Linked DNA regions of Homo sapiens. The protein of the gene in region 1 purifies or fractionates together with the protein of each later gene. This does not show direct contact. Each region holds a gene or a part of one and is shown in the gene's direction. Other genes may lie near its edges. The genes, in order: CNP, SIRT3, ACOT1, RAP2B, BCAR1, STAT3 and DBNL.

Region 1 (3,500 bases):
CCTATGGAAGGTGCGTGCCGCAGTTGTTAGTGGATGCTGGGCCTATACCGACCCCTGCTCAGCTGTGCTCACTTCTGTTAGACTTCCCCTTCTCTCCTCCAGGAGGGACCCTCCCTGGGTCAGCTGTTCCTCAAGAGCCTGCCATCTCTAGCTTGGGCCCCTCTTTCTCACTCTCCCCAGGTGTTAAAGAAATCTTACTCCAAGGCCTTCACGCTGACCATCTCTGCCCTCTTTGTGACACCCAAGACGACTGGGGCCCGGGTGGAGTTAAGCGAGCAGCAACTGCAGTTGTGGCCGAGTGATGTGGACAAGCTGTCACCCACTGACAACCTGCCGCGGGGGAGCCGCGCCCACATCACCCTCGGCTGTGCAGCTGACGTAGAGGCCGTGCAGACGGGCCTTGACCTCTTAGAGATTCTGCGGCAGGAGAAGGGGGGCAGCCGAGGCGAGGAGGTGGGCGAGCTAAGCCGGGGCAAGCTCTATTCCTTGGGCAATGGGCGCTGGATGCTGACCCTGGCCAAGAACATGGAGGTCAGGGCCATCTTCACGGGGTACTACGGGAAAGGCAAACCTGTGCCCACGCAAGGTAGCCGGAAGGGGGGCGCCTTGCAGTCCTGCACCATCATATGAGTGTTCTCACCACCACTTATGCCCCTAGAAGGGAAGGGGAGAGGGAAACGTGCCCTCTGTTTGATCCTTGTTTTGTGACATTTTTTTTTTTTTTTTTTTTACTCAAAGTTAACCTACCTGTAACTTTTTAAAAACTTGTAAAATAACTGACCCTCCCTTCCTGTCCGCCCTCTTCCCCTCTAATGCTCACGCTCCCAACACAAGGTGGGCAGGGAGGCACCATTCAGGAACCTGGACCAAAGCTGACGAGGCTGGGCCAAGCCAGGGATGGGGCCACAGCCAGAACCCCGAGCCCTACTTCCAGGTTCTGGTTAGCTCAGCCCCAGCCCAGCCCAGCTGCTCTGCCCAGAGCTGGGTGAGTGGGGAGACACCTCAGAGCCCCGCAAAACCCACTGACCGGAGGCAAAAGGCAGTGGGGCTGGGGGTAGTTTTCCATGGTCACAGAGAACTAGTGGTGGCTCTGAGAAGGGGAGGACCTCTGGGCTTTGATTCCATCTCCTTGTCTTTTTTCTTTGTTTTTAGAGACAGGGTCCTGCTATTTCCCAAGCTGGAGTGCAGTGGTGCGATCATGGCTCACTGCAGCCTCGAACTCCTGGGCTCAAGCAATCCTCCTGAGTGATCCCATTTCTTAATCAGTGTAGCCCCAAGAAGGCTGGGGCTATTTACCAGGGTAGAAAAAGGAGCTTACCTCCCACCTTTGGTCCTAAGTCCCTGCCCCCTCCCCTTCACACCATAACTAGGTAACAGTTTGATAACTAGGGAAGAAAGCAGAACAGTTAAGCAGCCGCCACATCCCCGCTGGCTGGGGGCCTCACTCCAGGAAGGGGCTGGACTGGCTGTCCTTTCCAGTGGCCTGGCTCCGCTGTGTGGATGGGGAGATCGGGGCCAGAGGCAGAACCCTGGTGAGGAAGCTCCAGTCCTGCTCTCTACCCAGCCCATCTTGCCTCCATGGTGCCTCTGGAGGCCTCTGGGCCTCCTCTAACAGGGGCTGGTGGGCACCAAGAGCCAATGGAGTAGACCCCTGGCTGGTAAGGGCCAAGTCCCACCGGTTGCTTCTGGGAAGGGGTTTCTAACACTAGTCTGTGTGCTGTGGTTCCTGGGGTGCCCTCCACTGCCCTCTGTTCAGTAACAGGGCCTTGCTAATCGGGTTGTCACTCAACAAAAGTGCTTTGGATTTAAGTTACTATCCTGGCTTTGCCCAACCTCAGCAACCTGTAAGACTGATAATGAAATAAATCATGTTAATCCTAGCTGTGTGCAGTCTCTCTTACCCTTCTGTGCCCAGCTCAGTCTTCCCTAGGGCTGGGTGTATTAGGACTGGCTTTGTCCCACAGCTTGGGGCCATCGGTCCTGTCTCCCCTCTGCTGGCCGGGCACAGCTGTGGTGAGGTTGGGCAGCTGAACAGTGTTGGCTTTCATGAGGAGGCAGAAAGCAGAGGCTGGCCTCAGACTCATACAGAAGGTGGGGGTTGGCTGGGTACGAGGGATGTGGAGCACAAAAGCCTCTCATCCCCCATTAACCAGGGCACCAAGCCCACAGGTGTCCCCAGCCCACTGGATCAGAAAGAGTTCAGTAAGACCGGAAGCTCCTGGTATGGGTTTCTCCCAGTTCTCTAGGGAAGGCCACCTGCAGGTCACTGAAACTTCAAGCACCAGGGAAGATCTAACATTTGAGTCCCTTCCAGGCCATCAGAGGCCTAGTCAGCCACATGGGAAACTTCCAAGACCTGACTCAGGCATCATTCCACCATGGCTAAGGCACCAGCCGGGGAAGACTTGAAAGAAAGGGGCAGGAGCTCAGATGAAGAGAAATCCTAAGTTACCTTTCTAGGTCAAGGCCTGTCCCTGGCCATCTCTGAACTTCAGCTAGAGCTTCAAGTCTGTGCCTGGAGCTCCTGGGAAGGCTACTCACCTTGAACACCACGCTTGACAGGACAGCATGGTGCATGCCGCTGCATCCGTGAGCAGTGTGTCTCCTGCATGCAGAAAGGGAGCAGAGAAGGCCAGGGGCTTTTGCTAAAAATAGTGGCCAGACCAGAGCTCTGGAGCCACCTGTCCCACCTCAAATGGGTCTGGGGGTCAGGAGGCAGGGTTTTATCTCTGTCTACCATCTCCCTCGAACCCACACTGCAACAGGAACTGTGAGAGTCTTTGTAAGTAAACTGCCCTGTCTAGGTCAGTACCCACCTGAGCTTTGGACGCACACAGCTTTTAGTACCCACCTGAGCTTTGGACACACACAGCTTCTAGTGATTTCTGGGGCCCCACCGTAAAGTGAGCATGCTTTCTGAACTCGCTTCTCTGTGACTGATGTTAGGCTGGGCCCAGAGGCACAGCCGGGGCCTGCCTAGCACTCACATGCTGGACAGGTCTGGGAGAGGCAGAGTGCCCCACCTGCCACTAGGCTGGGTGCCCACAGCCCGCATGCAGCAGCTTGCTGCACCCCAAGTCCAGGTCGGGCTCAGCTCTGGCTCACAGACTGGAGACAATGCAGATGCCAGAGCAAAGGGCCAGGAAGGGTCAAAACATTTTATTCTCTTTTTTTTTTCTTTTTTAATAAAGTTAAACAGTAAAACAAAAATTCACAAGCTGCCTCCCTGTCCACCCCCGCCTCCCTCCCCTGCCCTCGGTCTTCGGCATTGGTTCCCTTTGCTCCACCCCACTCACAGAGACACAGGGCATCCAACTGAGAAAACGAAACTGCTCTAAGCACACGGAGACGTGATGAAGGGAGGAGGTGAACTGTTTCCACATTCAAGATTAAACTGAGTGAATCTGCATTTTCTGGGTTCTGGGTGGTTGCCCTTCATTAGCCAAATTGAAAAAAGAAATTCCCTGGACCAGATGCTGAAAGAGAAAAGAGGGGTTGGT
Region 2 (3,500 bases), on another chromosome or scaffold:
CTTGTTTTTTATTCTTTTGAGTATGATACCTACAAGTATTGCTGGGTAACTCCACGTTTAGCTATATTTATTTATTTATTTTTTGAGACACAGTCTTACACTGTCACCCAGGCTGGAGTGCAATGGCGCGATTTCGGCTCAATACAACCTCTGCCTCCCGGGTTCAAGCGATTCTCCTGCCTCAGCCTCCTGAGAAGCTGGGATTACAGGTGCCTGCCACCATGCCCAGCTAATGTTTTTTGTATTTCTAGTAGAGATGGGGTTTCACCATGTTGGCCAGGCTGCTCTTGCATTCCTGACCTCAGGTGGTTCACCCGCCTCGGCCTCCCAAAGTGCTAAGATTACAGGCGTGAGCCACCATGCCCTGCCCATGTTTAACTTTTTTGTTTGTTTGTTTTGAGACGGAGTCTAGCTCTTATCACCAGGCTGGAGTGCAGTGGCGCAATCTCGGCTCACTGTACCATCCGCCTCCTGGGTTCAAGCGATTCTCCTGCCTCAGCTTCCTGAGTAGCTGGGACTACAGGCACACACCACCACGCCCGGCTAATTTTTGTATTTAGTAGAGTAGTTTCACCATGTTGGCCAGGATGTCTCGATCTCTTGACCTCGTGATCCGCCTGCCTCTTTCTCCCAAAGTGTGGGATTACAGGCGAGAGCCACTGCGCCCGGCCCGTTTTAACTTTTTGAGGAACGAATATACTGTTATCTGCAGAAGCTGGACCATTTTACATTCCACCAACAGTGGGCAAGGGTTTCATCTTTTCCACATCCCAACACTTACTTTCCATTTTTTAATTACAGCTATCCCAGTGGGTGGGAGGTGGTAACCCACTGTAGCACTGATTGGCATTTTCCTAATGATTCATGATATCAAACATCTTTCCATGTGCTTTTTGGCCATTTGTATATCTTTGGAGATTGAAGTCCTTTGCGCATTGTTTAATTGTGTTGTCTTTTTTATTGTTAAGAGAGTCCTTTATATATTCTGGAAGCTAGATCCTTATCAGAGACATGATTTGCAAATATTTTCTGTCATTCTGTAGGTTGTCTTTTTTACTTTGTTGATGTCTTTTGATGCATAGAAGTTTTGATTTTGATGAAATCTAGTTTGTCTATTTATTTTCTCACTCTTTTGGAATCATATCTGAGAAATGGTATTGTTTTACTCCTGTTTTCTTATAAGAGTTTTATAGTTTAAAGCTTTTACATTTAGTTCTTTGATCCATTTTGAGTTAATTTTTGTGTGCGCTGTAAGGTAGGGATCCAGCTTCATTTTCTTTTATGTGGATATGTAATTGTTCCAGCACCATTTGTTTAAAAAAACTGTGGTCTTGGCATTGTTGTTGAAAATCAGTTGGCCATAGGTGTATGGGTTATTTCTAGAGTCTCAATTCTATTCCATTGTTATCTGTATATCCTTGTGCCTGCACTATAATGTTTTGGTTACTGTAGCTTTGTAGTAAGTTTTGAAATTAGGAAGTGTGAGTCCAGCACATAGTAGAAACTTGATATATACGTATTATTGTTTTGGTCAACTCATTCATTGAATGACCAATTTATTCAACAAATAGTTTAGTCTCCTCAGTGCCAGGCCCTTTGCTGGGTTCTGTGGATGTGAATAGAAATTAAAATAAGGTGGAGTCATCCAACAGTTACAACTGGGTGCCATACGAATTTTACTATAAATATGTACTGGACACTACACTGACTCAGCTGTAGGAACAGAGTAGGCTGGGAAGCACCTTTGAGATGAGGCCGTCTGGATGTAAGAGTCTGTTTCTGGCAGCAGAGACCTGGAGTGTGGGAGGCCTGCTTGCTCTGTTAGGGTTTGAACTGTATCCTGACGATCATGGGAGGCATTGGAGGATTTTTAGGCAGGAAAATGATGTGAAGGGATTTGCATTTAAAAGAGATTATTTGGGACTGGGCACAGTGGCTCACGCCTGTAATTCCAGCACTTTGGGAGGCCTAGACAGGCGGGTCACCTGAGGTGGGAAGCTTGAGAGCAGCCTGCCAAAATGGTGAAATCCCATCTCTACTAAAAATACAAAAATTAGCCAGGTGTGGTGGTGCACCTGTAATCCCAGCTACTCAGGAGGCTGAGGCAGAAGAATTGCTTGAACCTGGGAGGGGAGGTTGCTGTGAGCTGAGATCGCACCACTGCACTCCAGCCTGGGTGACAGAGTGAGACTCCATCTCAAAACAAAATAAATAAATAAATAAGAGAATAAAATAGATAATTTGGGCAACAGGTTGATGTTAATTCCCCACCTTTGTTCTTCTCCTTCAGTACTGTGTTGGCTGGTCTGAATCTTTTGGCTTTTCATATAAATTTCTGAAACTGTTGCTATCTGTTCTCTGCCTGTTTTATTTTTGTTGTTGTTGTTTGGATTTTTTGTTTTTTTGAGATAGAGTCTTGCTCTGTTGCCCAGGCTGGAGTGCAGTGGTATGATCTCAGCTCATTGCAACCTCCCCCTCTCAGGTTCAAGCGATTCTCTTGCCTCATCCTCCTGAGTAGCTGGGATTGCAGGCATGCGCCACCATGCCCAGCTAATTTTTGTATTTTTAGTAGAGATGGGGTTTCACTATGTTGGTGAGGCTGGTGTCGAACTCCTGACCTCATGATCCACCCGCCTCGGCCTCCCAAAGTGCTGGGATGACAGGCATGAGCCACCGTGTCTGGCCTCTCTGCCTGTTTTTTAAGACTTTTGTCTTTGGAGTTTTGCGGTTTCTCCACTGTGGTTTTCCATATGAATTTTCTTTTATTTCTTCTGCTTAAAATTTGTAGGCCAGTTGGTCATGGTGGCTCACGCCCGTAATCCCAGTACTTTGGGAGGCCGGGTGGGTGGATCGCCTGAGGTCAGGAGTTTGAGACCAGCCTGACCAACATGGAGAAACCCCATATCTACTAAAAATACAAAATTAGCCGGGCGTGATGGTGCATGCCTATAATCTCAGATACTCGGGAGGCTGAGGCAGGCGAATTGCTTGAACCAGGGAGGCGGAGGTTGCGGTGAGCTGAGATTAGGCCATTGCACTCCAGCCTGGGAAACAAGAGCGAAACTCCATCTCAAAAAAAAAAAAATAATAATAATAATTGTAGGCCTTCCTTAAGAAAAATAAAATAAAATTCTAGGCTGGGCGCGGTGGCTCCTGCCTGTAATCCCAGTACTTTGGGAAGCTGAGGCGGGTGGATCACCTGAGTTAGGAGTTTGAGACCAGCCTGGCCAACATGGTGAAACCCCGTCTCTACTAAAAATACAAAGATGAGCCATTTGTGGTGGCACCCATCTGTAATCCCAGCTACTCGGGAGGCTGAGGCAGGAGAATTGCTGGAACCCAGGAGGCAGAAGTTGTAGTGAACCGAGATCATGCCACTGCACTCCAGCCTGGGTGACAGAGCGAGATGCCATCTCAAAAAAATAAAATATAAAATAAAATTCTAAGCCCTGCAACCAACTGAATGGAGCCCTCCCCTTGGTCAAGGGAACCCCAGAGAA
Region 3 (4,154 bases), on another chromosome or scaffold:
TAGAAGGAGTCAACATATTCATCTGCTCTGGGCAACAATTTGTCTTAACTTACAAAGTTAAATATGTTATTCTACTTGTACATGTGCACCAGGAGGCATATTCCTTATAAGAGGAAAGCCATTGCAGATGAGCAGTCTGGATTAATTTAAAAAAAGAGCAAAGTCAACTGGAAACAGTCCAAATGTCCATCAACAATAGAACAGATTAATAAATTGAGGTATATTTCCAGCAGTCAAAGTGATTGAACTACAGCTAGAAGAATCAACATCTATCAAGATATACAAAAGAAAAGAAAAAAATAAAAAAGAATCAACATGGATGAATCTCCAAACCACTGTTGAGTGAAACAGTCAAACACTAGGAGAACACATTCAGTATCATTCCATTTAGATACAGTTCAAAAAATAGGCAAAATAAAATATTGTTTAAGGTACATAATCTAAGTGGTAATACTATGAAGAAAACCAAGAGTGATACACAGAAAGTCCAGGATACTGGAAAGAGAGGAAAGGGCACAGGGGTCTGTGGGACGTTGATGGTTTGCGGGTATCAGCACTGAACTATGTCTTAAAAGTGTTGCCTGTAAGGTGTTTGCATTCTTTTTTTTTTTTTTTTTTTGAGACAGTGTCTCGCTCTTTCGCCCAGGCTGGAGTAGTGGCACAATCTTGGCTCACTGCAACCTCCAACTCCCGGGTTCAAGCGATTCTCCTCCCTCAGCCTCCCGAGTAGCTGGGATTACAGGTGGCCGCCACCACACCCAGCTAATTTTTGTATTTTTAGTACAGATGGGGTTTCACCATGTTGGCCAGGCTGGTCTCGAACTCCTGACCTCAGGTGATCCACCCGTCTCAGCCTCCCAAAGTGCTGGGATTACAGGCGTGAGCCACCAGACCCAGCCTGCATTATTATTCTTTAATTTTGTGTGAAACACAAAACCTTTAATGTAAATGATAAAAATATTCAGTAAGTGGAGTCATTCAGAATGAGTAGCCTTTTGAGTCTGTCTCCATTGAATAAGTGCATTCTGTTGAGTGCACTGGAGAGGAATTTGTGCTCTTCTATGTAGCAGTCTTTCTTTTTGTTTCTTGGTGGTGCACCATTAAATGGATTCATTCACCAGTTAAAGGACATTTGGGTTGTTTCCAGTCTTTGGCTACAATGAATAAAGTCACTATAAACACTTGCCAGAAGTTTCTGGACGAACACAGGTTTTCATTTCTCGTGGGTAGATACCTAGGAGTGGGATTGCTGGGTCACATGTGTGGTAAGTATATGTTTAACTTGGTAAGAAACCATCCAACTGTTTCAGGAATAGCTTAGTTTTGCATTTTGTTTTGTTTCTTCCCAAGAACCTGGGCCCTTTCCTGGCATTGTGGACATGTTCGGAACTGGAGGTGGCCTGCTGGAGTATCGGGCTAGTCTGCTGGCTGGGAAGGGTTTTGCTGTGATGGCTCTGGCTTACTATAACTATGAAGACCTCCCCAAGACCATGGAGACGCTCCATCTGGAGTACTTTGAAGAAGCTGTGAACTACTTGCTCAGTCATCCTGAGGTGAGTTCTTCTCTCAGATTTATGGGCTATGATGTATCAGGTCTCTTCTTAAATGGTCTGGGTTTTCACAGAAGTTAGCTCATTCATGACAGCCATTCCCTACCCCAACACACACTACCTTTTTTAGTCACTTCTTATAGACAGTTTCTTTCTTTCTTCTTCTTCTTCTTTCTTTTTTTGAGATGGAGTCTCACTCTGTTGCCAGGCTGGAGTCCAGTGGTGCGATCTTGGCTCACTGCAACCTCCACCTCCCAAGTTCAAGTGATTCTTGTGCCCCAGCCTCCCAAGTAGCTGGGATTACAGGCACCTGCCAACATGCCTGGATAATTTTTGTATTTTCAGTAGAGACGGGGTTTCACAATATTTGTCAGGCTGGTCTTGAATTCCTGACCTCAAATGATCCACCTGCCTTGGCCTCCCCAGGTGCTGGATTACAGGCATGAGCCACTATGCCTAGCCTAATTTTTGTATTTTTTTTTTTTAGTAGAGATGGGGTTTCGCCATGTTGGCCAGGCTGGTCTCAAACTCCTGACCTCAAGTGATCTGCCCACCTCGGCCTCCCAGAGTGCTGGAATTACAGGCATGAGCCACCACACCTGGCCTCTTATAGACAGTTTCTATTCAATTCTATATTACTATATTTCCTGCTAGTAAAGATATTTGTAGTTGGTATTATGCAATTTTAAATTCCAGTATGTTTTTTCTTTCTTTTTTTTTTTTTTTTTTTAAGACGGAGTCTTGCCGTGTCAACGAGGCTGGAGTGCAGTGGCATGATCTCGGCTTACTGCAACCTCCACCTCCCAGGTTCAAGCGATTCTCCTGCCTCGGCCTCCTGAGTAGCTGGGACTACAGGCGCATGCCACTTCTGCCTGGCTAATTTTTGTATTTTTAGTAGAGACAGGGTTTCACCATATTGGCCAGGCTGGTCTCGAACTCCTGACCTCAAATGATCCACCCGCCTCAGCCTCCCAAACTGTTGGGATTACAGGCGTCAGCCACCACGCCCGGCCATGAGATGACGTACTTGTTGATGACGACTCAGTTTAGTTATGACAGTGGGAATGGGTGGCTCAGGTGGGAGACAGAAAAAGATCATGGGAGATAATGAGATTAAGGAACTGAGAAACCAGAGTAATTGATAGATCTTCCACATGGTTATCACCAAGAGTGGTGATGGACAAATTGTGGAAAGGAAGAGATAGAGGGGAGGTAAATTCCCAAAGCTGCAAATCTGGGTAAATGGTAGAACCCAGATTCAGACTCAGGTTCAACTAACTTCCAGGGTGGGCACAACTCACCATATTCCACTGTTTGTGGAGCCATTCTTCTTCTTTTTCCTTTGTCCCTTTCTCAGGTAAAAGGTCCAGGAGTTGGGCTGCTTGGAATTTCCAAAGGGGGTGAGCTCTGCCTTTCCATGGCCTCTTTCCTGAAGGGCATCACGGCTGCTGTCGTCATCAACGGCTCTGTGGCCAATGTTGGGGGAACCTTACGCTACAAGGGCGAGACCCTGCCCCCTGTGGGCGTCAACAGAAATCGCATCAAGGTGACCAAAGATGGCTATGCAGACATTGTGGATGTCCTGAACAGCCCTTTGGAAGGACCTGACCAGAAGAGCTTCATTCCTGTGGAAAGGGCAGAGAGCACCTTCCTGTTCCTGGTAGGTCAGGATGACCACAACTGGAAGAGTGAGTTCTATGCTAATGAGGCCTGTAAACGCTTGCAGGCCCATGGGAGGAGAAAGCCCCAGATCATCTGTTACCCAGAGACAGGGCACTATATTGAGCCTCCTTACTTCCCCCTGTGTCGGGCTTCCCTGCATGCCTTGGTGGGCAGTCCTATTATCTGGGGAGGGGAGCCCAGGGCTCATGCCATGGCTCAGGTGGATGCTTGGAAACAACTCCAGACTTTCTTCCACAAACACTTGGGTGGCCACGAGGGGACAATCCCATCAAAAGTGTAAATTTTATTTGATCATGTGGCCTCTCTGTTGCTAATCTCTCCTGGAAACATCTGCCACATTTAGTGTGTGTATGTGTATTCATTCTTTCTCATAACTTCTTAAAGTTTCTTCCCCTCATTATTAAAATGAATTTACCAGTAAGAATGAGTTTTTAAGATTTTTATAAACTGTATACTTTATCAGTTTGGGAAGGGAGTAACTGTAGGAAACACAAGAAGTGGAAAAAGTCTCCTCTTCCTATCTCAACACACAACTGATAAGGCTTTAGTTCTGAAAGGAAAAGTGAGTAACATCAATTAACAGTGTCTGGTACGTAAATGGAGTTCAATAATTATTTGCTGAATGAGTATAAGTGAGCCAGGCGTGGTGGCTCACACCTGTAATCCTAGCACTTTGGGAGGCCAAGGTGCGCGGATTACTTGAGGTCAGGAGTTTGAGACCAGCCTGGCCAACATGGTGAAACCCCATCTCTACTAAAAATACAAAAAATTAGCCGGGCGTGGTGGCGCATGCCTGTAGTCCCAGCTACTCAGGAGGCTGACGCAGGAGAATTGCTTGAACCCGGGAGGCAGAGGTTGCAATGAGCTGAGATTGCACTACTGCCCTCCAGCCTGGGTAACACAGCAAGACTATGCCTCAAA
Region 4 (2,941 bases), on another chromosome or scaffold:
ATCTGGGTTTTTAAAGACAATTTGGGGGCCTTCTAAAGAAACAATAGTAGATCTAATTACAAGTAGTGGATTGCTTACTTCAAATTTCTCTTTTACAATTTAGAAAGTTTAGTACCAGTTTATAGACTGAGGGAGTAGTAGCTACTATTTAGATGCTGAGAATAATATTATCATGCTTGGGTGGGGAAGAAAGGCCCTTACTCAAATCTCCATTTTCATTTTTAATGCTTCCTGGACTTCAGTTATTTTCTTGCTTTTGCCTCAAGAATAATAAATATTTTTGGTTAAAATTTTTTTTGTTCAACCCTGTTGTTGTTACTGTTATTTTCATAGCACAGTAGTCTACAGCTCTCTATAGTAGCTTAATAGCTATTTGCTGAATGAATGGAACATGGAGTGTTACATCTGAAACTATTCTATTAGAAGGTGAAAAGTGTTGATTGAAGAATGGTAGGATTTTATCTTCCCTACCCATGATAGATTTATTAAGATTGTCTTTGGAGCTATGTCTTCCATTCCAACTATACAGAAATAAACTTTTTTAAAGTTTAGTTTGCCCATCTGATAAAGGAACATTCCTGTATGCTATTCTAAGGTTCATTTTCAACAAAAGTTACAGACATTTATGGTTGATAGTTTGAGATCTATGACAGTTTTAGGGAGCTCCATATTCAAAAGGCTATTGCTGGTGATAGTACAATGAAACACTGACTTCAGTATATTTTTATCTTGGCTTTCATTTTACGGTTATTTCTACTACTGTTAATATGGACTAATACTTGATTTTGTGAACCTGTTTTAATTTTAGGGTTATATTTATGTTGGAATAATATATTTTAAAAGTGTCCTATACTATGAATTTATTTGCCATATATAAGACAATCAGAATTATCTGGTAGTTTATTCTAATCCTGGTTAATAATCATTAGGACTAAACTATTTACATTAAAGAAGGAAAAAACAATGAGATGATAATTTTTTTTTTCTTTGAGACGGAGTCTTGCTCTGTCGGCCAGGCTGGAGTGCAATGGCGCGATCTCGGCTCACTGCAACTTCCGCTTCCTGGGTTCAAGCAATTCTCCTGCCTCAGCCTTTCCAGTAGCTGGGACTACGGGCGCCCTCCACCACTCCCGGCTAATTTTTGTATTTTTCATAGAGACAGCATTTCACCATACTGGCCAGGCTGGTCGTGAACTCCTGACCTTGTGATCTGCCCACCTTGGCTTCCCAAAGTGCTGGGATTACAGGTGTGAGCCACCGCACCCAGCCTTTTTTTTGAAATGGAGTCTGGCTCTGTCGCCCAGGCTGGAGTGCAATGGCGCGATCTCGGCTCACTGCAACCTCTGCCTCCCAGGTTCAAGCGATTAGCCTGCCTCATCCTCCTGAGTAGCTGGGATTACAGGCGTGCACCACCACGCCCGCCTAATTTTTGTATTTTTAGTAGAGATGGGGTTTCACTACGTTGGTCAGGATGGTCTTGAACTTCTGACCTTGTGCTCCACCCACCTCAGCCTCCCAAGAGTTGGGATTACAGGCGTGAGCCACTGCACCCGGCTGAGATGATAATTTTATTTAAAAAAAAAATTGTAGAGATAGGGTCTTGCCGTGTTGCCCAGGCTGGTCTCAAATTCCTGGGCTCAGGAGATCTTCCCTCCTCAGCCCCTCAAAGTGCTGGGATTACAGGCCTGAGCCACTGCATCCAGCCAGGAGTGACAATTTCTAAAGCCTTAATTAGTGAAATGGTTTGTTTTGAGAAGCAGAAATGACTAAGTGGTATAGACATGCAGGAAAAGCAAAATGGGCCTTATGGCTATTGAAATTATGAGTGTTGATCTGTTCTATAAATTGGAGGAGACAGCTATTTGCATTCTTTCTTATCCAGTTGACTAAACTTACTCATTTTAAAATGAATTATCTTGCAAAATTATGTGAGGTTAAGTTTGTCAGAGGATTGAAAACGTGGTTGGTTTATTTGTGGTAATTGTGAAAAATTGCAAAGGTAGCAAAATTTTTTAAAAAATGGAAAAGAGAAAGATTATTGATGCCTTGTGAATACAGGTGTCCCCAAAAGGCCTGAGACCAACCTTAATTATCAAGAATATGGTTGCAGTGGAAATTGGTAAACAGCTGAAATTGATTCATTGATTATTCAACACTTATTGAGCACATACTACTATTATTAATAGCTGTACTGCGAGCGCTAATACTTAAAAGAGGAAGTCAGGTGAAGGCGCAACAGCTTTATGCTCTTTTTCACTATAATCTGTGAAATAGTGTATATTAAACAATAATAGTATATGGAAAAGCACATCTACATGTGTCATCAGTTATAATACTGTGGGGCTGTTTGGCAGACAATAGAGTAGATAAATTTATTGAACATTGGGCCTTTGAAAGGTATGTGGAAATTGTAAATAAAAATGGATTCCATGAATTTCAAATAATAATTGTTCTGTTGTATGTGAAACTGTGTAATAAGATTGTCATTTTATTTACTTTTCTGCATCATTTTCAACTTCCTTTTTGAGATTAGCTAAAATTGAACACTTACAAGAGGAAATGATTTTACTTTTATATTTTCATGTCCAAGGGAAGAGGAAAACATGAAGAAAACAGATTTATAAAATTTACTCACAAGGCTGGGCACGGTGGCTCACACCTGTAATCCCAGTAGTTTGAGAGGCCGAGGCAGGTGGATCACGAAGTCAGGAGTTCAAGACCAGCCTGGCCAAGAAGGTGAAACCCCGTCTCTACTAAAAATACAAAAATTAGCCGGGTGCGGTGGGAGATACCTGTAATCCCAGCTACTCAGGAGGCTGAGGCAGAATTGCTTGAACCTGGGTGGCAGAGATTACAGTGAGCCAAGATCGCACCACTGCACTCCAGCCTGGGTGATAGAATGAGACTCCATCTCAAAAAAAAAGTAAAATAAAATTAAATT
Region 5 (3,500 bases), on another chromosome or scaffold:
GCAGGACAGCCCCCGCCCTCCCGCTCCTCTGTGGGGCTCTGGCCCCTAGACCTGCCGCACTGCCTGTCCCGTCCTGCCTCAGAGCCTGGGACATAGTCCACCGTTTTCTTTTTTTTTCTTTTTGTGTAGTTTTTCAGCCCCAAAGCAAGAAACACTCATTCCTGAAAAACAGGAAGAGAAACTATCTCCATTGTCTCAGACATCTCTGGTGTCTTCCTGACCCTCTCTTGTCTTTACGTTTCACAGGACATTTTCTTGAGATGTGCTTTTCACTTGAGTGCCTTTTTCATTTTGTTGTAATCATGGTGTGGACAGTGTTGCAGCCATCCAGGGCCTCTGCCCTTGTGCTCACCTTGGCTCCAATATGACTCCACCTGGGCCTGCCCTCTCCTAGCTGCCCCCTGGCCCCTCCCTTGGGCCTTGCTCCTCCTGGCTCTCCACACTCCAGCCTCTGGCCCTTTTAGGGACTGGAGGCTCCTAGCTGCTCTGGAGAAATGGGCTCCCTGCTGATGATGTCCACCCAGGGCAAGTGAACCATGGGGTCTGAATGTCTGATCCTGGGACCTGGGGCAACTACTGCCTACCCAGGCCGCTGCCTGGTATGCCATCGCCCTCTGATGCCGGCCAGGGAGATGGCGCTCAGAGGGGCACTGTCCAGCCCCTGCTCATATAGGGGAGGAGGGTGGGCCCTAGGGACTTGAAAGAGGCCTCACCCCCACTCCTCTGCCCCAAGGCACAGGCTCCTGCTTCCTGTTTCTGCCCAAGGGGGCGTGGCCCTTTCTTCCTTGTTTCACTCCTTGCAGATGGAGTCCAGAAAGTGGGACTTGGGCCCAAGTGGGGATGGTCACACAGCTACTGGCTGGCCAGAACCCAGGTCCCATTTCCGAGTCAGAGTCTCGACCAGGCTGCACATCTAAGACGCCAGGAGACTCTGAGGAGGGACCTTGCAGGGCAGCCCAGAGCTGAGGCCAGGCTGGTGGGGTGGCTGGAGCCCAGTGCCGGTCACTGTCCAGCCAGCCTGGCACTGTTCTCACACCCGGCTTCCCTGTGTGTGAAGTCTGGGGCCCCTGTGGAACCCATGCAGCCCTCTGCTGCCCTAGGAGGGGCCGCAGCCCTGGCCTTGTCTCACCCCGTGCCTCCCTCACACCTGCCTTTTGCTGCAACCGCCCACACCCTCCAGCCAGGGATCCTCTGTCTCTCTGGGCCCATCCTGCGCCTGGCACCTCGATGGGGCAGCAGCGGCAGGGGCGAGGATGCATGAGTGTGTGGTGGGAAACTGCGAGGCCTCCCTGCCTGGGCTCTAGTGTCCCAGCGAGGCTCCGCCCCTGCCCTCGCCACGGCACTCATGCCTCTGATCCCACAGCCTCCTCCAAGTCCCTCTCGGACTGCTTGGCTCCTGGGCCACATGGAGCACGTACCCGGCTCTGCAAGGGTTTGCTGAGGGCGACGGGGCCAGGACAGGGAGGGTGTGCCTCCTGTTTCTTTCCCAGCCTTGGGGAAGGTGTTTGAAGTTTCTAAATTAATTACTGACTTTTTGGATTTGGGGTAGATAGACTTTGTTAAGGAAGCTCTGTCTTATTGTTGTTCATTTTTTTATCCTAAGAAGCTGTTCTTTTTGTCAGATTATTTTCGTGCACCTCGAGAGAGAACCATTTGCTATTTGTTTTAACTTGGCAGCTTTGTCGTGATTACTGCCGCTCTCCTTGTGTTGGTCCAGGTAGCAGAGTGGCCTTGGGTGGGGCTTTTAGGGATATCTTGAGGGTCATCCCTGGAGTTTTGGTGGTGACAGTGGTCAAGAGGATTTTGAGGTGCTATACAGGTGCAGTTGAAAGAAAGGCCAGGATCAGCTGGGCCTTTCTGCTGGGGAACAGGTGGGGACAGTGGAGGCAAAGGCACAATGATCTCGCCAAACTCCACTGAGTTCTTTTCCTAGTATCAAAGCTGGGCACCTCCCCAGAGCAGGGCAGGAGCTGGGGAGCCCCTGACGCCCCATGCACATCCTTCTGTTCTCACACCTGTGTCCTCTCTCCCCAGAACGTGCTGGCCAAAGCGCTCTATGACAATGTGGCCGAGTCCCCGGATGAGCTCTCCTTCCGCAAGGGTGACATCATGACGGTGCTGGAGCAGGACACGCAGGGCCTGGACGGCTGGTGGCTCTGCTCGCTGCATGGGCGCCAGGGCATCGTGCCTGGGAACCGCCTCAAGATCTTGGTGGGCATGTATGATAAGAAGCCAGCAGGGCCTGGCCCCGGCCCTCCCGCCACCCCGGCCCAGCCTCAGCCTGGCCTCCATGCCCCAGCGCCTCCGGCCTCCCAGTACACGCCCATGCTCCCCAACACCTACCAGCCCCAGCCAGACAGCGTCTACCTGGTGCCCACTCCCAGCAAGGCTCAGCAAGGCCTCTACCAAGTCCCGGGTCCCAGCCCTCAGTTCCAGTCTCCCCCAGCCAAGCAGACATCCACCTTCTCGAAGCAGACACCCCATCACCCGTTTCCCAGCCCGGCCACAGACCTGTACCAGGTGCCCCCAGGGCCTGGAGGCCCTGCCCAGGATATTTACCAGGTGCCACCTTCTGCCGGGATGGGGCATGACATCTACCAGGTCCCCCCGTCCATGGACACACGCAGCTGGGAGGGCACGAAGCCCCCGGCAAAGGTAAGGCTGTCCTGGCACAGTTGTGCAGCCACACAGGTATAGCCCAGGCCCTGGTTTGTGGGCACAGAAGGGTCCAGCCACCCTCAATCACCGGCATTCCAGGAGTGGCTGTGTGTTTGGTCTGGGGTCAAAGTGGGAAGTGAGTGTTTGGGGGGTGTTCATTTGTCCGGGGAAGATGGATGTGAATGGACCCAGAGGGGAGATGCTCCGCTGGCCTCAGCCAAGCCGACCCGAGTGGTGGTGTCACCAACCACAGGGAGCAGCCTGTTGAGGCGTTCCAGTGGGCAGGCGGGGCTTGGCACATGGGGTCGGCAGTTGCTGGGCCCCCGCAAGGGAGAGGCCAGCCACTTCATGCTCAGGCTCCCCTGTGCCATCTGGGTTTACGTGTCAGCCTCTAGATGGGGTTCCGGCACATCTTCTGGCCGCCCCTGCCTCCACAGGCCAACCCCTCTCCACTTATGGAACATGCTAGGGGCCAGCGGGTGCGTATGGTGATCTGGATGTGACTCCTGGGAGGACGCTGCCCCTGAGATTGCTAGAGGAGGACTGCCCTGAGAGCCTCCTGGGCTCTTGCTGATGGGATGCTGGGCCTGGGGACAAGACCTCTGGCCTCCAGACCCTGAGCCCGCTTCCCAAGTCCACAGGGCCCCTGCCTCCCAAGCTCACCTGCCTGTAGGAAGGAGTCAGCACTAGACACTCAGCCCAGGGCTGAGGTGGAGACCTCATTGGTGCCAGCTGGGCAGCGAGTCAGCTGGGAGTTACCCCCACCCCCGCCCATGGGTGGCCTGGTACCCAGGAGGCATGGCCGGAGGTCGTTGGCGGGTGGGGGACTCCATGGACATGGG
Region 6 (2,619 bases), 340 kb from region 1:
TGTTCCCCTGCCCTCCTTTCTCAGCAGCTTTTTGTTATTGTTGTTGTTGTTCTTAGACAAGTGCCTCCTGGTGCCTGCGGCATCCTTCTGCCTGTTTCTGTAAGCAAATGCCACAGGCCACCTATAGCTACATACTCCTGGCATTGCACTTTTTAACCTTGCTGACATCCAAATAGAAGATAGGACTATCTAAGCCCTAGGTTTCTTTTTAAATTAAGAAATAATAACAATTAAAGGGCAAAAAACACTGTATCAGCATAGCCTTTCTGTATTTAAGAAACTTAAGCAGCCGGGCATGGTGGCTCACGCCTGTAATCCCAGCACTTTGGGAGGCCGAGGCGGATCATAAGGTCAGGAGATCAAGACCATCCTGGCTAACACGGTGAAACCCCGTCTCTACTAAAAGTACAAAAAATTAGCTGGGTGTGGTGGTGGGCGCCTGTAGTCCCAGCTACTCGGGAGGCTGAGGCAGGAGAATCGCTTGAACCTGAGAGGCGGAGGTTGCAGTGAGCCAAAATTGCACCACTGCACACTGCACTCCATCCTGGGCGACAGTCTGAGACTCTGTCTCAAAAAAAAAAAAAAAAAAAAGAAACTTCAGTTAACAGCCTCCTTGGTGCTTTAAGCATTCAGCTTCCTTCAGGCTGGTAATTTATATAATCCCTGAAACGGGCTTCAGGTCAAACCCTTAAGACATCTGAAGCTGCAACCTGGCCTTTGGTGTTGAAATAGGAAGGTTTAAGGAGAATCTAAGCATTTTAGACTTTTTTTTATAAATAGACTTATTTTCCTTTGTAATGTATTGGCCTTTTAGTGAGTAAGGCTGGGCAGAGGGTGCTTACAACCTTGACTCCCTTTCTCCCTGGACTTGATCTGCTGTTTCAGAGGCTAGGTTGTTTCTGTGGGTGCCTTATCAGGGCTGGGATACTTCTGATTCTGGCTTCCTTCCTGCCCCACCCTCCCGACCCCAGTCCCCCTGATCCTGCTAGAGGCATGTCTCCTTGCGTGTCTAAAGGTCCCTCATCCTGTTTGTTTTAGGAATCCTGGTCTCAGGACCTCATGGAAGAAGAGGGGGAGAGAGTTACAGGTTGGACATGATGCACACTATGGGGCCCCAGCGACGTGTCTGGTTGAGCTCAGGGAATATGGTTCTTAGCCAGTTTCTTGGTGATATCCAGTGGCACTTGTAATGGCGTCTTCATTCAGTTCATGCAGGGCAAAGGCTTACTGATAAACTTGAGTCTGCCCTCGTATGAGGGTGTATACCTGGCCTCCCTCTGAGGCTGGTGACTCCTCCCTGCTGGGGCCCCACAGGTGAGGCAGAACAGCTAGAGGGCCTCCCCGCCTGCCCGCCTTGGCTGGCTAGCTCGCCTCTCCTGTGCGTATGGGAACACCTAGCACGTGCTGGATGGGCTGCCTCTGACTCAGAGGCATGGCCGGATTTGGCAACTCAAAACCACCTTGCCTCAGCTGATCAGAGTTTCTGTGGAATTCTGTTTGTTAAATCAAATTAGCTGGTCTCTGAATTAAGGGGGAGACGACCTTCTCTAAGATGAACAGGGTTCGCCCCAGTCCTCCTGCCTGGAGACAGTTGATGTGTCATGCAGAGCTCTTACTTCTCCAGCAACACTCTTCAGTACATAATAAGCTTAACTGATAAACAGAATATTTAGAAAGGTGAGACTTGGGCTTACCATTGGGTTTAAATCATAGGGACCTAGGGCGAGGGTTCAGGGCTTCTCTGGAGCAGATATTGTCAAGTTCATGGCCTTAGGTAGCATGTATCTGGTCTTAACTCTGATTGTAGCAAAAGTTCTGAGAGGAGCTGAGCCCTGTTGTGGCCCATTAAAGAACAGGGTCCTCAGGCCCTGCCCGCTTCCTGTCCACTGCCCCCTCCCCATCCCCAGCCCAGCCGAGGGAATCCCGTGGGTTGCTTACCTACCTATAAGGTGGTTTATAAGCTGCTGTCCTGGCCACTGCATTCAAATTCCAATGTGTACTTCATAGTGTAAAAATTTATATTATTGTGAGGTTTTTTGTCTTTTTTTTTTTTTTTTTTTTTTGGTATATTGCTGTATCTACTTTAACTTCCAGAAATAAACGTTATATAGGAACCGTCTGATAGCATGGCAGCTCTGTTTGGCTGGTGGAGGCTTCCTTTTCCCCTGCATAAGTTCTGAGGGGGCCTCACACACAGGTGGGGCCTGGGATAAGGGCCGGAAAGGGTCTTGAGAGGAGGTGGTTGCCTTAATCCCCCCCGCCAACCCCCTTATGTTAGCCACCAGCCCGGAGGTAAGGGGTGCCTGGAGGAGCAGGAGGTCAATAGTCCAACGGCAGAAAGGTGTCAGAGTGGAGGCCTCCCTCCCCGGCCCCCTCCTACCCCCCAGAGCGGCCTCGTCCTGTCTGGGGTCAGATAAGCCACCTAAGCGGGGTGGGGGGTAGATACTCCCACCGCACCAAGGCCTCCCCTTCCACAGTTGGCTCCTTTATCACTTTCCCTTCAGTTCACCCAGCGGGGACAACACGCAGACACCCGGTGGTGGCTGCAGGGCCCCCGGCAGCCAGCGGTGATAATGCAGGGAAAGGCGCCCCAACCTCAGCTACGCGGGCGCCCACAGG
Region 7 (3,500 bases), on another chromosome or scaffold:
CCTCCCCGTGCTTGGCGGCCGTTTCTGCCTTGTTGAGGCCTGTGAGGCCCCCGTAATGCCGCTCATTGAGGCGCCAAGTGCGCACCACAGGCAGCCACATCTGGTCCGTGCCGTCCAGGATGGCCCAGAGGGTGCGGATGGCCCGCTTCAGCACTGACGTGTAGCAGATGTCAAACTCCATCTTGGCATCCTTGATGGCCTTGGCTCCCCGCTTGGCCTCCTCGGTCCCCTTTTCACTCAGCTCTGCATCGAACCAGCCACAGAAACGGTTCTCCTGGTTCCATGTGCTCTCGCCGTGCCGGACCATCACGAGGCGGTGAGTGGCCATGGTGGCAGCAGGGACCACAGAGGACTCTGGACGGGGACGGCTGCTTCCCAACACTCCCAGCTTTATAATAGTGTCTTCCCAGCCCCCACCCACCCCAGCCAACTGCCAATCAGCATTCCAGGCGGTGGCAGGTGACCAGTAGCTGAGCTGCTGGGGGCTGGGGGCCAGGGGAGTGTGCAGGCCAAGAGGCTGTGCTTAAAATAGCCCCACGCATCCACCAGCTCCTGGCCTGGGTTCAGGTGGCATGTCTATAACCAGCTGGCACCCAGAGCCCAGACTGAGTGGGGCTGCTGGTCAGGGATGGGCGTGAAGGGCAGAAGTCTGGGCCAGGGGAGATGGGGATAGCAGGGACAGAGGGGCTCTCCAGGGCAACGCTCAGTGGCCTATCAGCCATTCTCTGCTCAGACAGAGGCACAAACAAAATCCCAACCCCTTTCTCCTGTGATTGGCAGCCAGGCTAGGAGGCGGCCCTCAGCAGGCAGAGGAGGAGAGCCAGAGGAGCTGGTGCAGACCACAGCTTTGTGGAGAGGAGTCTGGCCTTGTGGAAGGTACCAGGCAGCAGCAGCAGAATGGGCAAGGGCTGGGGCTGAGCCGGGTTTCCAGGACAAAGGGGGAAAGGGCCCCTGTCTTTCCTCCGGGGTCCCTTTGTCAAGGTCTCATCCATACATGCCCCATGCTCCCACCCTATCTGCCCTCACCCAAGCCACGCTCACTCTCCTAGCCGAAACCACCTTGAAAAAGAGAAATCCAAGGGGGTTTGGGGGCAGGACTGAGGACTGTCAGAAGTCTTGATTGTTAGGTAAATGCTCAGCTTAGCAGGAACCCACAACGTAGGCTGAAGGGTGGCACGGAGTTGAGTCTAGGACCAAGACTTCTGCATTCAGGTTTGGGGGATGAGAGCCACCAAGGCAGGGAAGAGACTATGAGCAATAAAGTCACAATTGGGGCCCTAATGAAGGGGCCATGGCCAGACCCTTGGGCATGGGCCCCATCCAGGGCCTCCCATTTCCTCCCACCCCAGTGACCACACTGTCACCTGCGACACTTCTGATAACAGGAGCGGGTAGGTGAGAGGCCAGCAGAGGGACCACCACTCTGAGACTTGGATCTGAGTGTGCAAGAAACCCTCGACAGGCCTCCCTCCATCCCTGCTGGCCTACCTGGGGAGGGGCTCCTGGCTTGGGGCCTGTGAAGCTAAGGCTCTGTACCCAAAGGTTGGCAGACAAGTCCCAGTGGGCAAAGTCCTGTCGGCTGCCAGGACCCCCAAGGCTGGCAGGTGGAACCCATCCCTCCTAGCAGTGCCATGCGCAGGTCTCACTGTTCCACACTGATCCTGATTGAAGCCACATCTCCTCATCTGCTTTTGTCCCTTTGACCAAGAGTTGATTCACTAGCCCAACTAAACATGACTGAGGACCAGGCTCTGGCAGTCCCACAGGGGCCAGACATGAAGCCCATATTTCAGTGGAGGAGGGATCGTACCAGCAGCTAAACATGCCTACCGTAGATAGCACCAGATGCTAGGAAGGAAGGACCATAATGTACTGGGAGAGATGGGAAAGGAGAGGCCGGGGACAGCCCTGAGGTGACATGTGAGTGGAAAGAGCGGAGTGCAAAGGCCTCAGCTATGATGAGTCCTACAGGGAGAGCAATTCAGGTAGAGGGGTTGGCAAAGACCCAAGCCCTACAGAAAGCAAACAAGCTGGGGCAGCGACCATCAGGGGCACATGGCAGAGAGGTGGGCTTTGTGTCCCAACACAGTGGGAATCACTGGAGACTTTGAAGCATGGTCATATTTTCAAGTCACTTGCAGCTGTGTAGGAGTGGAAGTAGAAGCTGAGTACCCTGCAGGTCTCGGCAGCTTTGATGAGAACAAGGCCGCTTAGCCAGGGCTGGGTGCAGAAGCAGTGGCAAGGATCCCCCAGACCTGGGAGACCTCACTGCCAACCAAGCAGGAGGTGTCAAAAAGGAAAGGGGAGCCCAAAGAAGGGCTGGACTTCGGGGAAGCAAGCCCCTGCTTCTGACCCTTGGCTCCGGCTTGACTTTCCTTTGATTCATTTGACAAGTAGTTGCTGGCCTCTGCAGTGTGCCAGAGCTTTCTTGGAGGGGTACAGGGGTAGGAAAACCAAAAGCCACCCTCAGGGCCTCCATCCAGGAAGGCATAGCATGGTGGGCGGCGAGGAAGGCTGCTGAGTCAACAAGGTGGTCCCAGGAAGGTGGAGGGAGCATCTTCCCATGTCTCTCCCACTGACAGCCACCAATCCTGGACAGATGCAGGAGCAGCTGTCAGTAGACAGATAAGAAAAGGAGATCAGATTCAAAGTTCCGCAGAGAAGTGGTGAGGTAACAAGTATTGCCTAGCCTGGACACACAGGCGGCTTGAAACCTCAAGTGCACCAACAGAAAGAGCTCCAGGAAGAATCAGAGGAGTGGGATGTGAAGCCCCTCGAAGTCAGTGAGTTGGGGGAATCCCTCCAATTTTTCTTTTCTTCTCTACCCCAGCTCCTGGGCAGTAACATGGAGGTGGCAGTGGTGGCACAGTGACGGTAGTGTGAGCTGGGTACGCACTTGAAACCTGAGAGGGTAACGCTACCCTCTGTCTAGAGGAGCCATGGCCCCAAAAGCATGGGGCAACCACCTTCTGCAGCTCCTTTCTGCCCCCCTGCGCTGGGCCCTGGATGCAGTTTCAGGGAGTATGCAGCAGGGTAGGTAGGGAAAGAGCCCCAGATTTGTGGCTGGAGGTCTTGGTAGGGATGTTGCAGGGAGCTGTTGTGTTTCAGGGAGAGTACAGAGAAGGGAGAGATGAAGTGAGTGATCCGATAAAGTGATATGTGAAGTCATTGGCTTGCTGCCAAGCTGCGCACAGGGCTGACCCTAGATGCACATTGCAGGTCCCAGACTGACCGGTGTAGATACAGGACTAATATGACTAGTAGTGCAAACACTTTAAACAGTCAACATTCTGCTTAGGATTTAAACAAGGTCCAGAGTCTCAACATAATATTTAAAATATCCAGGTTATCCAAAATAACCCAGTGTATGAAAACCAGGAAAATCTTAACATGGGAGAAAAGAAGATGATCAATACATGCCCATCCTGAGATGATTCAACTATTGGAATGATCAGATACAGACTTCAAAGCAGCTATTTATAACCAGCCTTCAGAAAGTA

Evidence for each region.
Region 2: the proteins of CNP (region 1) and SIRT3 purify together in Homo sapiens (affinity purification with mass spectrometry; 3 studies listed by BioGRID and IntAct, with this or other methods). This does not show direct contact.
Region 3: the proteins of CNP (region 1) and ACOT1 purify together in Homo sapiens (affinity purification with mass spectrometry; one large-scale study listed by BioGRID and IntAct). This does not show direct contact.
Region 4: the proteins of CNP (region 1) and RAP2B fractionate together in Homo sapiens (co-fractionation; one large-scale study listed by BioGRID). This does not show direct contact.
Region 5: the proteins of CNP (region 1) and BCAR1 purify together in Homo sapiens (co-immunoprecipitation; one large-scale study listed by IntAct). This does not show direct contact.
Region 6: the proteins of CNP (region 1) and STAT3 purify together in Homo sapiens (co-immunoprecipitation; one large-scale study listed by IntAct). This does not show direct contact.
Region 7: the proteins of CNP (region 1) and DBNL purify together in Homo sapiens (affinity purification with mass spectrometry; one large-scale study listed by BioGRID and IntAct). This does not show direct contact.

The regions. Positions count from the first base shown.
Region 1 is NC_000017.11:41,973,295-41,976,794, forward strand, and holds part of CNP (2',3'-cyclic-nucleotide 3'-phosphodiesterase), read left to right. Parts: intron 1-180; coding exon 181-630; 3' UTR 631-3,438; coding exon of another isoform or gene 3,439-3,476; 3' UTR 3,477-3,500. Other genes in the region: DNAJC7 (dnaJ homolog subfamily C member 7), read right to left, coding at 3,439-3,476. UniProt on the Homo sapiens protein: Catalyzes the formation of 2'-nucleotide products from 2',3'-cyclic substrates. May participate in RNA metabolism in the myelinating cell, CNP is the third most abundant protein in central nervous system myelin.
Region 2 is NC_000011.10:226,343-229,842, reverse strand, and holds part of SIRT3 (NAD-dependent protein deacetylase sirtuin-3, mitochondrial), read left to right. Parts: intron 1-3,500.
Region 3 is NC_000014.9:73,540,143-73,544,296, forward strand, and holds the end of ACOT1 (acyl-coenzyme A thioesterase 1), read left to right. Parts: intron 1-1,144; exon of another isoform or gene 1,145-1,159; coding exon of another isoform or gene 1,160-1,265; intron 1,266-1,350; coding exon 1,351-1,553; intron 1,554-2,907; coding exon 2,908-3,513; 3' UTR 3,514-3,654; downstream 3,655-4,154. UniProt on the Homo sapiens protein: Catalyzes the hydrolysis of acyl-CoAs into free fatty acids and coenzyme A (CoASH), regulating their respective intracellular levels. More active towards saturated and unsaturated long chain fatty acyl-CoAs (C12-C20).
Region 4 is NC_000003.12:153,168,187-153,171,127, forward strand, and holds the end of RAP2B (ras-related protein Rap-2b), read left to right. Parts: 3' UTR 1-2,441; downstream 2,442-2,941. UniProt on the Homo sapiens protein: Small GTP-binding protein which cycles between a GDP-bound inactive and a GTP-bound active form. Involved in EGFR and CHRM3 signaling pathways through stimulation of PLCE1.
Region 5 is NC_000016.10:75,241,625-75,245,124, reverse strand, and holds part of BCAR1 (breast cancer anti-estrogen resistance protein 1), read left to right. Parts: intron 1-2,034; coding exon 2,035-2,655; intron 2,656-3,500. UniProt on the Homo sapiens protein: Docking protein which plays a central coordinating role for tyrosine kinase-based signaling related to cell adhesion. Implicated in induction of cell migration and cell branching. Involved in the BCAR3-mediated inhibition of TGFB signaling.
Region 6 is NC_000017.11:42,312,824-42,315,442, reverse strand, and holds the end of STAT3 (signal transducer and activator of transcription 3), read left to right. Parts: 3' UTR 1-2,119; downstream 2,120-2,619. UniProt on the Homo sapiens protein: Signal transducer and transcription activator that mediates cellular responses to interleukins, KITLG/SCF, LEP and other growth factors. Once activated, recruits coactivators, such as NCOA1 or MED1, to the promoter region of the target gene.
Region 7 is NC_000007.14:44,065,202-44,068,701, forward strand, and holds part of DBNL (drebrin-like protein), read left to right. Parts: coding exon of another isoform or gene 1-328; 3' UTR 329-3,500. Other genes in the region: PGAM2 (phosphoglycerate mutase 2), read right to left, coding at 1-328. UniProt on the Homo sapiens protein: Adapter protein that binds F-actin and DNM1, and thereby plays a role in receptor-mediated endocytosis.